Regions from separate parts of the Homo sapiens genome. Here region 2 is linked to region 1. Evidence: fine-mapped expression QTL. A gene starts in region 1. The other region holds a variant in brackets. All regions are shown on one strand. Distances are between the middles of the regions.

Evidence for each region.
Region 2: its variant is fine-mapped to the expression of NEB in blood mononuclear cells (TOPMed, PIP 0.98).

Annotation. Positions count from the first base shown.
Region 1 is chr2:151,731,750-151,737,141 of GRCh38, forward strand. It overlaps NEB (nebulin), which reads right to left and starts at 2,727. Exons shown (of 182, transcript NM_001164508.2): 1 at 2,649-2,727; 2 at 1,963-2,046; 3 at 1,372-1,436. The coding sequence starts at 1,407.
Region 2 is chr2:151,787,833-151,793,224 of GRCh38, forward strand. No RefSeq gene overlaps it. Among named protein-coding and RNA genes, the nearest start is that of ARL5A, 38 kb to the right of the region's middle. The variant C/T (reference allele first, on the strand shown) is at 2,015.

The DNA of each region.
Region 1 (5,392 bases):
ACAAGGGATATTTAAGTTGGAGAGTAAAAACTGTTACTGGCATTATTATCATAGGGAAGACAATTTAATTTATAATTGTATTAGTGTTTGACAGTGATATTTCTGACCCTTAGGTACATAAGTAAAATGCACACTAGTGATAATATCAGCATGAAAGATGTGGTATCAGCATTTAAGCCAGAGAGGCTGAGTGTTACATTGTACGAGATTCATTCTATTTTTTCCCTCATATCCTTCAGTAATAAAAGCTATTTTATTTGTAGAATAAATAAAATTTTCTTCATCTAAATATAGACTGGTCACTAAAATAATTTTCCAAAGAGAAATTTTGGCACTGCCACCTAAAATTTGGTTCTGGGTAGCTCTTACAGTTAATTTCAGTCTTATTAAAAAGCACAGATTTTCAAAACTGCCTCCAAGTGCCTTAGGCATTTGGAGATTTTCATGTGTTTAGATCATCATCATTAATTGGTAATTATTAAGCACATTCAGATTCATGGCACTGTATTTATGTGCATTATAGTTCCAAGCCTTTAGATTTTATTTCTAGAATGTGAAGCTAAAGGCAAGAGCCGGTGAGGAAAAACCGTAAGATGATAAAAACAAAAGGATGTAAAATAAATATAAAATAAATGATTAACAGCTTTGTAAAATGTGTTAGATGTCCACTAATAATTGGAAGGAAAATTTTCAAGATACCCACTATAGTCTTTGTTCTTATTCAAAATTCAAAAGCAAAAGCTAGTCTTGTTGACTTGGGTAAATATAATGAAGTTGGTAGGAAGGTGTGGCTCCAACAATCGCTGTGACCTTCATGCCTTTATTTATATTTGCTTGTATGTGTGTGTCTGTGCACATGTGTATGTATTATGTATAAAGTCTCACATCTGCATATAATTTCATACATATGATTATTCTGAATATCTAACCCATGTTACCCTATAGATGATTAGCTAGTTGAAGCAAAGAATAAGGAGTAGATCTTTTCTTCTATTGCTATACAGATACTAAGAGACAGAGTTCCATTTTCAGAACTTTCTCTTCGTCTCTGTCCCTTTGAACATCGGGGTTGGGAAGTGGGGAAGAAAGCAGTTTTAGAAGACGAATTAAAACCTGCCTTTACTCCAACTTGGTTTTTTGAGAGCTTAAAGAAAAGCAAAAGTGGGAAACAGTGATATTTCCTGTCAATTCTAAATCCCACATAATTATAGTGAAACTGAACATAAAATATTCCTTTCTTATGCTTTAAATGATGACTCTTTGTGAAGTTATAATAGACAATGTATTTTTCGAATGATTAATTCACCTACACAGCTTTGATTGTCACTACATAAAATAGTTTGCTGTCAGTGTTTTTTTTTTAAATCTTACCTCCACCACCTCCTCATAGTCTTCGTCATCTGCCATTTTTCCAGAGTAGTAGTGGCACCTACAAACTTTTCATATTCCATACAAATGAAAACATATTAGAGTCTATTCCCAGCACAGAAATTATCTTATGACATTATAAAAATAGAATTTGAAGCTAAACTATTGTACAAATTCATATATTGTTGCAGGCTAAAGGAGAGAAGACATTTAAAATACAAGTATAAACAGCAGAAGCTTCAAATTTCTTTCTCTTTATTCCTTCAGTGTTGGGAATTGCTACTTCTACATAATCAGTTTAGTTAAAATTGTAAAACGAAATTGAGGTAAGGAAGTGAGAGAGTTTGGACTCAGGGAACAGAGAATTTAAACTTCCAAACACTTAGAGAAAAGACATTTTCCAGCAAAAATTTTAGTGAAAGGTCAGCTTGGGTTTCAGAAGAAGCTGAAATTTATCCCCCAGCACCAAAATTCTAAGAGGGCTGACTTAGTTTTCCATACTGCCCTGATCCACTGTTTGCAATATATCTTAGGCTTCAAATTGGAACCCATAAAAATACATCTGTCAATAAATTTTAAAAGAAAAAAAGAAACCTCAAGGCAATGGGGTTATTTTCTTCCCGAACACCATTGGCTTATACAGACTTTTTCTTTCGTTTCTGTAGCTCTCGTTCAAACCTGAAAAATAACAAAGTTGTAAAGCATTGATTGAGGTACATATAGGATTGTCAGTCCTTAGCCTAAGCTTCTAATGCAGAAAACAGCGAAAGGATCTCTCAAGGCCTCTACAGTTTGACGCCAGAGAGTAAGACTCTTGATATGAAGTGGATGATGAGTTGGAACAGCTGTCCCTTCATCCAAAGATGTTTGCCATGTAAACCAATACCCTGCAGTGGCTGGTTTTGTTAAGCTAGCGAAACTGCCACTCCTCAGGCAAATGAAGCCCAGTAGAACAGGATAAATATAGGAACGTAGAGCAGCGTATCTTCTTTTTCACACTAATATATTTAGAGAAAAATATCAAAGGCAAAAAAATGTTAGACAAGAGAGCCAATTCAGTCAAGCAATAAATTGGTTAGCAAAGGACTTGACTCTAATCACACACGGTACATAGCAGATATTAGTAGGGCCTTAGTAGGGCAATGGGGTTAAACTCTCCTAGCCATATTTCTACCACTAATTTCCTCAGTTATGGCCCAAACCTTTGAAAAATACTTCGAGGGAAGTTGTGGAGCATCTCCTGAAAGAGTATTACAGAAAAAGTCATAAACTGGCCTTACCTTCAATCTACCAAATAAATTTCCTCAGCAGCAAAGCCTCTCCCAACTCTCCCCTCCTGAGAACCCCAGGCAAAAGCCAGCGTGATGCCTGGGCTCCGAATTATCATGTGGCAAGAGCAACCAATCAGATCTTGAGTTGCTCAAATTTCAGAAGCTAAATTTACCAAGTGATCTTCTGAAAACCACCTGTTCATCAATTCCACTAAAGGATAAAGGGTAACAAATTGCTTGCTTAGAACAATTCAAATGGAATCAAATTTTACCTAACTTCCAGCCTGTGCAGTTCAATTTTAGGTTGAATTTCCCATTTACTGAGGCCCCATTCAATGTCATATTCATGCAAAAGAATTTAGTAGAAAATAAGCATGACTTTGAGAGGCTTTAACCCTTCCGTGACTGCTTTCTTCATGTCATTTGTCCAGTCATGGTGGTAAATGTACTCACTCTGGTAAGGTTCACCAGGTGAGCTACAGGTAAGTTACTGGTGCTAGTGTGAAAGAAACTGAGGAATAAGACCCAGTAAACATCAAGTTGACAAAAGCAATTTTTAAAAATGTGATGAGTGAAGTTAAAGGTGAAAATATTTGACAATGGCACTAAATAAGATATCCACAGGGTGTAATTAGAAAGATTAGACCCCATCATTTTTCTGTTACTAAACCAAGAGGGTATACCAAAATCCTATTTAGCACCTTCTCCCTCCTTAGATAAGGCAAGCTGCTAGGAATACAGAACCTCTCTCATATGTAACCGAGTTAGTGATTTTTCTATTAACTCAGATGACTCCTGGCTCCCAGAAGCAACGTGTGAATGCGGACACAAACAGGCTCAATTTCTGAACAGCAAGAGCAGATAACATGGAAATCAGTAACTTATCAGGAGAAAATAATGCCCTATTTGGCAAATCCGAACGTAAGACATTTCCTTCATAAAAATTATCTAACCATTTTCTTAAAACTTGCCTGATGTCTTTCTTGCACTTTCTTTGCTCCTGAAGTATTTTTTCTAATTTAAAATCTAATTCTATCTGTCTGTCTGTCTGTCCTTACACACAGCGACAGAAATCACAGGCTCTTATGTGACAGAGAACTGCTCTTTCTCTGGGTTGCTCCTGTATTCAGGCAAAACCCTGTGAGTCACCTATATCTTGATATGGATTTGAGATTAAACATATTGTAATATTTTTTCTTTTTTAAGTTAAACATTAGAAAGTAATCTCGCTGGGCGTGGTGGCTCACGCCTGTAATCCCAACACTTTGGGAGGCCGAGGCGGGCAGATTGTCTGAGGCCAGGAGTTTGAGAAAGTAATCTCATATTTCAAATACATGTACCTTTTCCCCCTCCATGATTCACATGGTAGTAAATAAAATCTAACAGAATTTTATCATCTTAACTGATTATACCTGTTCATCTTGTATGTTCTCACAGGTCTTATGACCAAAGGATATTTATGTAATATGAGATCACTCACTTGGTAGCTGCAAACTAGAATTGTGACTTACTAGTCATTACATGCTTTAAAATGTGTTGTTGAATTAAAAAATAATACAGGCCCATACTTTAAAAACATAGAGTACAAAATTATATAAAGTAAAAAATGAGCATTGACCTTCTTAGTCATTTTTAAGTTTCAGATATTTTCAATATAGATATTGACATAAATCGATATACTTAATATGCAATAGACATTTTTATGAAACATCACATAAACATATCCTACTCTAATTTCCACAAATAATTCTATTGATTGGATAGAGTATAATAGTTTAATCATTATTAATGGACATCTAGGTTGTTTCGAGGTTTTTGCTATTACAAAATAAAGCAAAACAATGCGAAACAAAACACACAGTAAGCATCCCTGTACATTACCTTTGTATACTTATATGAAATGTATCTGTAAGGTAAATTTCTAGAAATAGAAATACTGAGGCAGAAGATATATGCACATTTTGAAAATTGATAGATATTGTCAAGTTGCCAGTCAAAATCCTTACACTATTTTATGTTTCACTAACAGAGAATGAGGGTTCCTATGTATACACATCTCAATATCCTTAGGGATTATTAGACTGAAAAATCATTACTATCTGAGCTGAATGTGTCCCCCCAAAATTTATATGTTGAAGTCCTACCCCCCGATGTGTGGAAAGTGATTGGGTCATAAGGGTGGAGCCCTCACGAATGGGATTAGTACACTTATGAAAGAGGCCCCAGAGAGCTGCCTGGCACTCTCTCTGCCATGTGAAGTTACAGGGGGATGATGGCCAGCCACAACCTGAAAGAAAGTCCTCACTAGAACCCAACCATGCCAGCACCCTGATCTTAGACATCCAGCCTCTAGAACTATGAGAAGTAAATTTCTGTTTATAAGCCATCCAGCTTATATTATTTCTGTTATAGCAGACCAAATGGACTAAGACACTCTTTATACATTACTTTTGAAACCACTATGATAGTAAATAGAAGTGCTACAGATGAGCAGAACCTCAAACTCCATTCATAATGAAGTGTGCATCTAAAAAGTTAGGGTGGGGGGTGGGGCAAGAGTGAGTTCACATGAAATTACCCTGGCTTAGATCTCTTGGGATAAATTCCTCCTAAAAGAAAGCCCCAAAGCCCCTGCTAAACTGGCCTGCTGCAGGTTGCCCTAATAATTTGCAAAGCCATCAGAAGTAAGAGACTCACAGGAGAGCTGGTTATATTCCTACCATGGTTACACAGGGGTGAGTGAACCAGCAAGC
Region 2 (5,392 bases), 56 kb after region 1:
TGGAAATTATGGCACTATTGTAGAGGTGGCAAGAAATGGGAAATACTTTAGCAGACATATTGGACTAAGTTCCCAGCCAAGAACCAAATAATTTAAAAAATATTTAAGTGCAAAGAAACCACTAAGGCAACATGTAACCTCCTTTTACTAACAAATAGATGTAGTAATAAGACAAATCCAGGCATATAGTACTTACATCACTTTATGATAATACATGCTAAGGAAAAGTAAAATTGGCCAAACCCTGAAAGTTTCTGTTCTGTATATGTATGGACACCCCCAATGCATGCCATGCTGGTAGTGGGGATATGGAGCTGAATGGGATCGAGTCACTGCCCTCCAGAGGCTTGCAGTCTGGAACGACCTGCTGAAAATAGACAAAAATCCCGCACTATGGCAACAGAGAAAGACGTGCTGAACCGTCTTCCAGATCAGGCCAGGCCTCCCAGGCTGATGGGAGAGCTCAGTCTTCAAGGATATGTCAAAGATTGCTATGTGAGAAAAGGAAGGAAAAGGCATTCTAGGTGGAAGGAACAGGCTAGATCAAGGCATGAGACAGAAAGAATAGATGTTTAGAATACATTTAATTATAATAACCAGTATTCAATATTTTAGAAATTGTTAAAAAGACAATCAGCAAAACCACTATTTATTGAGGTTCCAAAATATATTGGGCTTGTGTTAAGGGCTCTGATACATACTTAGTTAAAAATATAATGAAACTAAGGTCCAGGGATGTTACTTAGCTTGCTGATAATGTTGTGGGCATATTAATAGGGTGTCTTTTTTTCACAGTATCAGGCTGATGATTTTTCTTGGCACCATATCCTACTTACAGTTAGCTTTCTAAGAAAAAGATCAGGTAAAGTTAAAACATTTTTAAAGTTCTCCAGTTTGATTCTTATCTGTAGGCACATCTTTGTAATAAACGTAAAATAGCAGCATTCTTTACATGGCATAAGGTAGTTACAATTCCTTCCAAAGGAATAAGAACTAGGAAATTCCTGGGAATAGTCATTATAGGTCAATTTGACTCAACCAATTGTCTACTGTTTCTGAAGAACTTTTAAAAAGCTTTATTGCTAATCATTCTTCCCTGCCACTTGCCTTCTTACCTCAAATGTAAAAACTGAGTAACAAAAACTTTAAGGCAAAGCTCTTATTTTACAATATCATTTCAGGATTAAAAACAACAACATGAATTGAGTCACAACTATGTGCTTGGATCATAGAACTAGTTTACTTTCTTAATTGAATTAACATAACAGCATCATTTTAAGATTTGTGTAACTAGAGCAGGGTATGGTGGTGCAGGCCTGTAGTCCCAGCTATTCAGGAGGCTCAGGCAGGAGGATCACTTGTACTGAGGAGTTGAAGTCCAGCCTGGGCAACACAGTCAGACCTTGTCTCTAAAACTAAAATAAATAAATAAATAAATAAATAAATAAATAAATAAATAAATAAATATGTGTGTACCTGAGGCAAAGAACAGGCAGAAATACTGATGATCATTCTGCCAAGTTGGCAAAGAAGCCTTGCCCTTTTTTTTTCTATTAGCAGTACTTAATGTTCACTACATTCATTCATTCACGAGTTATTTTTTATATAAAGGTCATTAATGACATTAAATTGCCTATTATAATGGCCCAATGTAAACATCAGCAGTTTGTCAGCAAGAAAAGCTTCATTATTCACAAATGCTGGTCAAGTCTTGCTACTAATTCATTTGATGACAGAATGACCAACTGCCCCTTAAGCTGACAACCCTTCCCCTCCACTGCTATCACTGCAAAAACACATTGTCCCCTATCTGAACATGATAACCGAGTGTCGTTTCTGGGTAACACTGAGGTGATTCAAAACACACTTCATAATTAACAATGTGAATTATTTCACATCATCCCATCTCTTTATCATACCGTCATTCTTCCAGGCAGCAAGCTCCAACTGCTCTGTGCCTCCTTCCTCTCTTTCTCCTCATATCTAGTTACCACAACTCCTCTTCTGCCCAGAC[C/T]AGTCCTGCAGGAATGTTTTTCTTCTTCTTATCCCCCTTTTTCATGAATTAAAAAAAAAATTATTTTTAGTTGACAAATTGTATGTATTTATGGGGTATAATGTGGTATTTTGATATGCTGGAGTAATTATTAATAGTGCCTTCTTTGACTCTTAAGCATGTCCCATTTTGGCTGATAACTTATATGGTTACTTACCCATATTCCATTAGATATCAAGTTTATCTTTGCCTTCTCTGCCTTGTTTCAGGCCTTCATTTTCTTTCACCAGGGATAATATAATAATCTATTTATGATGTTATCCCCAGTTTCCTCTCTTTTCAACCCATCTTTTAGAAGTTGCCACAATAACTTTCATTTTAAGAGGCTGGCCTTAAACTGTTATTCCCAGGCCAGGTGCAGTGACTCATGCCTGTAATCCCAGCACTTTCGGAGGCCCAGGTGAGAGGATCATTTGAGTCTAAGAGTTTGAGACCATCTTGGGCAACATAGCAAGACCACATCTCTAAGAAAAAAAAAAAAAAATTAGCCAGGCGTGGTGGTATGTGCCTGTAGTCCCAGCTACTTGGGAGGCTGAGGTGTGATGATCACTTGAGCCCAGAAGGTCAAGGATGCAAAGAGCCATGATCATGCTACTGCACTCCAGCCTGGGAAACACAGCAAGATCCTGTCTTAAAACAAAATAAAACAAGCAAACCTTCAGTGGTTCCCCAATGCCTACTACTACTGCCACCTCACTTTAGTCTATAAGGACTGTTGACTCTTGCTATCACTGTCTCTCTTCATATAGCCTCCAGTACACCTGATGTGAACTATTCACTTTACATTTGGAGTGGGTTTTTGTTTGTCTGTTTGTTTGTTTGTTTGAGATAGTCTCATGGTCCCCTGGGCTGGAATGCAGTGTTGCATGTTGCAATCATGGCTCACTGTAGCCTCAACCTCCCAAGATCAAGTGATCTTCCCACCTCAGCCTCCCAAGTAGCTGAGACAACAGGCACATGCCACCATGCCTATTTTTTTTGTTTGTTTTTTGTAGAGATGCGGGTCTCACTATGTTGCCCAGGCTGGTCTCAAACTCTTGGGCTCAGGTTCTCCTCCTGCCTGGGCCTCCCAAAGTGCTGACATTACAGGTGTGAGCCACCACACCCAGCCCCTTTGGGTGTTTTTAAATATAACTTTGGCATTTATAACAAATGCAACCACATGTTAGATCTTATTAGAAGTACTAAACTTTTAGGACACCAGATCAGGTTGAAGAGTATTTTGAGTACAGCAGTTAAACCATTTAAAAAGACCATTACCATTTACAACTAATTCTCTGCGGGCATTTGATGTCATTACTACACAGCCAAAAAGAACCTATCCCACAAACCAACCAACCACCAAACCATCTAAAGCAAAACACATAATATCAAGGCATAAGCTAAAAAGGTAATCTCTTTACATCTGCAATAATTGGTAAGAACTCTGTCAAAATCAGACTTGCACTGAAGGTTGCAAATGGCATTGCATCAGTGAATTTTTACCAATCACCTTTTGTTGTTGTTGTTGTTGTTGTTTTTTAATTTCAACTTTTATTTTAATTTCAGGGGATTTATGTGCAGGTTGTTACCTGAGTGTATTGCATGAAGCTGAGGTATGGGGCATAAATGATCCCATCACCGAGGCACTGAGCATAGTACAATAAAGCTTTTCAACCTTTGGCCCCCTTTCCCTTACCCCTCTAATAGTCCCCAATATTGCTGCCATCTTTATGTTCATGAGTACCCAATGTTTAGCTCCCACTTATAAGTCAGAACATGTGGTATTTGGTTTTCTGTTTCTATGTTAATTCGCTTAGGATAACAACCTCCAGCCACATTGCAAAGGATATTATTTTGTTCCTTTTTATGGCTGCATAGTATTCCACTTACCAATCATCTTGATCTCTGAACTGAGAGCTTCATCCCATTTACTTAATACAACTTTTGTATTCCTTCCCATCCCTATTAGATGATTCTTTAAAGACAAAATGATTCAGCAATGTTTTCTGATTATTGGTATAATGCGCTCAATATAGAATATCTGTAACATACAAAATCGTAATCAGAAAAATACTGGTTGTAATGTTGCCGCCTACAACTCCTAATGTTATAATACATTTCTTTCTTCTTTTTTTTTTTTTTAAAGACATAGTCTCACTCTGACACCTAGGCTGGAGTGCAAACACAGCTCGCCGCAGCCTTGAACTCCTGGGCTCAAGTGATGCTCTCACCTTAGCCTCCTGAGCAGCTGGGACTATAAGGTACCTGTCACCATGTCTGGCTAGATTTAAAAAACATTTTGTAGAGACAGGGTTTCGCCATGTTGCCCAGGCTGATCTTGAGTTCCTGGGCTCAAGCAGTCCTCCGGCCTCAGCTTCCCAAGGTACTTTCCTATCTTTTTTCTATGTTTTTTGTTCTCGCATAATTCAGATGATAGATGTAAAAGTTTATATTATAAAAAAATTGTTTATCCTGTTTAACATGTCACAACCATTAATAATTTCCTCATATTATTTAAATCTGTTAAAATATTTAATGGTAGCATGTTTTATCATATAACTCAACTGTTTTTAATATGATGGACATAAATGGATGGACACTGGGTGACTTTTCTGAATGAACACAGGACTTCCTACACAGGACTGGCATTTAGGGCTGACAGCATAGATGGACACATTGGTGGGAGAGCATCCTAGAAGCAGAAGACTGGCCGTCTATGGTAGATAATAAAAGTTGTTCATTATTCTTCCCCAACATTAAAAAAAGGTCAGCTGAGAGATTGTATACATCTTTTACCTTCTACCCTTCCCAAAAGGAGTCAATGATTAGCATAGGCTGAATACATTATAAGCCGGTTAACAAGTAAACTGCACAATAAAGGCTAAAGATCACAGAAACCTTGTGGGCGGAGGGAAGCTTTGCACTGCCCACTGCTGGAAGGACTGGTGAACATGTAGCATGACCTGAAGATGCCCAGAGTGGTGGTGGCCTGTGACAGTAGTCAACAGGTTTACAAATCTTAATATAAAGTGTCTTAATATAGAGATGGCCGTGTATATGCTGAAGAATTGACCAGGATGTGGGGAATCTTTTCGGAAGACAATTAGGCAACAGGCTACCAAAGCCTTTTAAAAGGCCATATGCTTTGACACAGCGATTGGACTTGTGAGAATTCATTCTATGAAAAATAAATCCAAATGTTAACTACAGTAAAATTACTGCAATGGTAAGAAATAAGGAACAACAATGTACATCAACATTAGACTGGTTAAATAAATTATGTCATGTCCAAACAGCAAACACAATATATCCATTAAAATGTTTTATATGTAAATGATGTTTACAGTATATCATGGA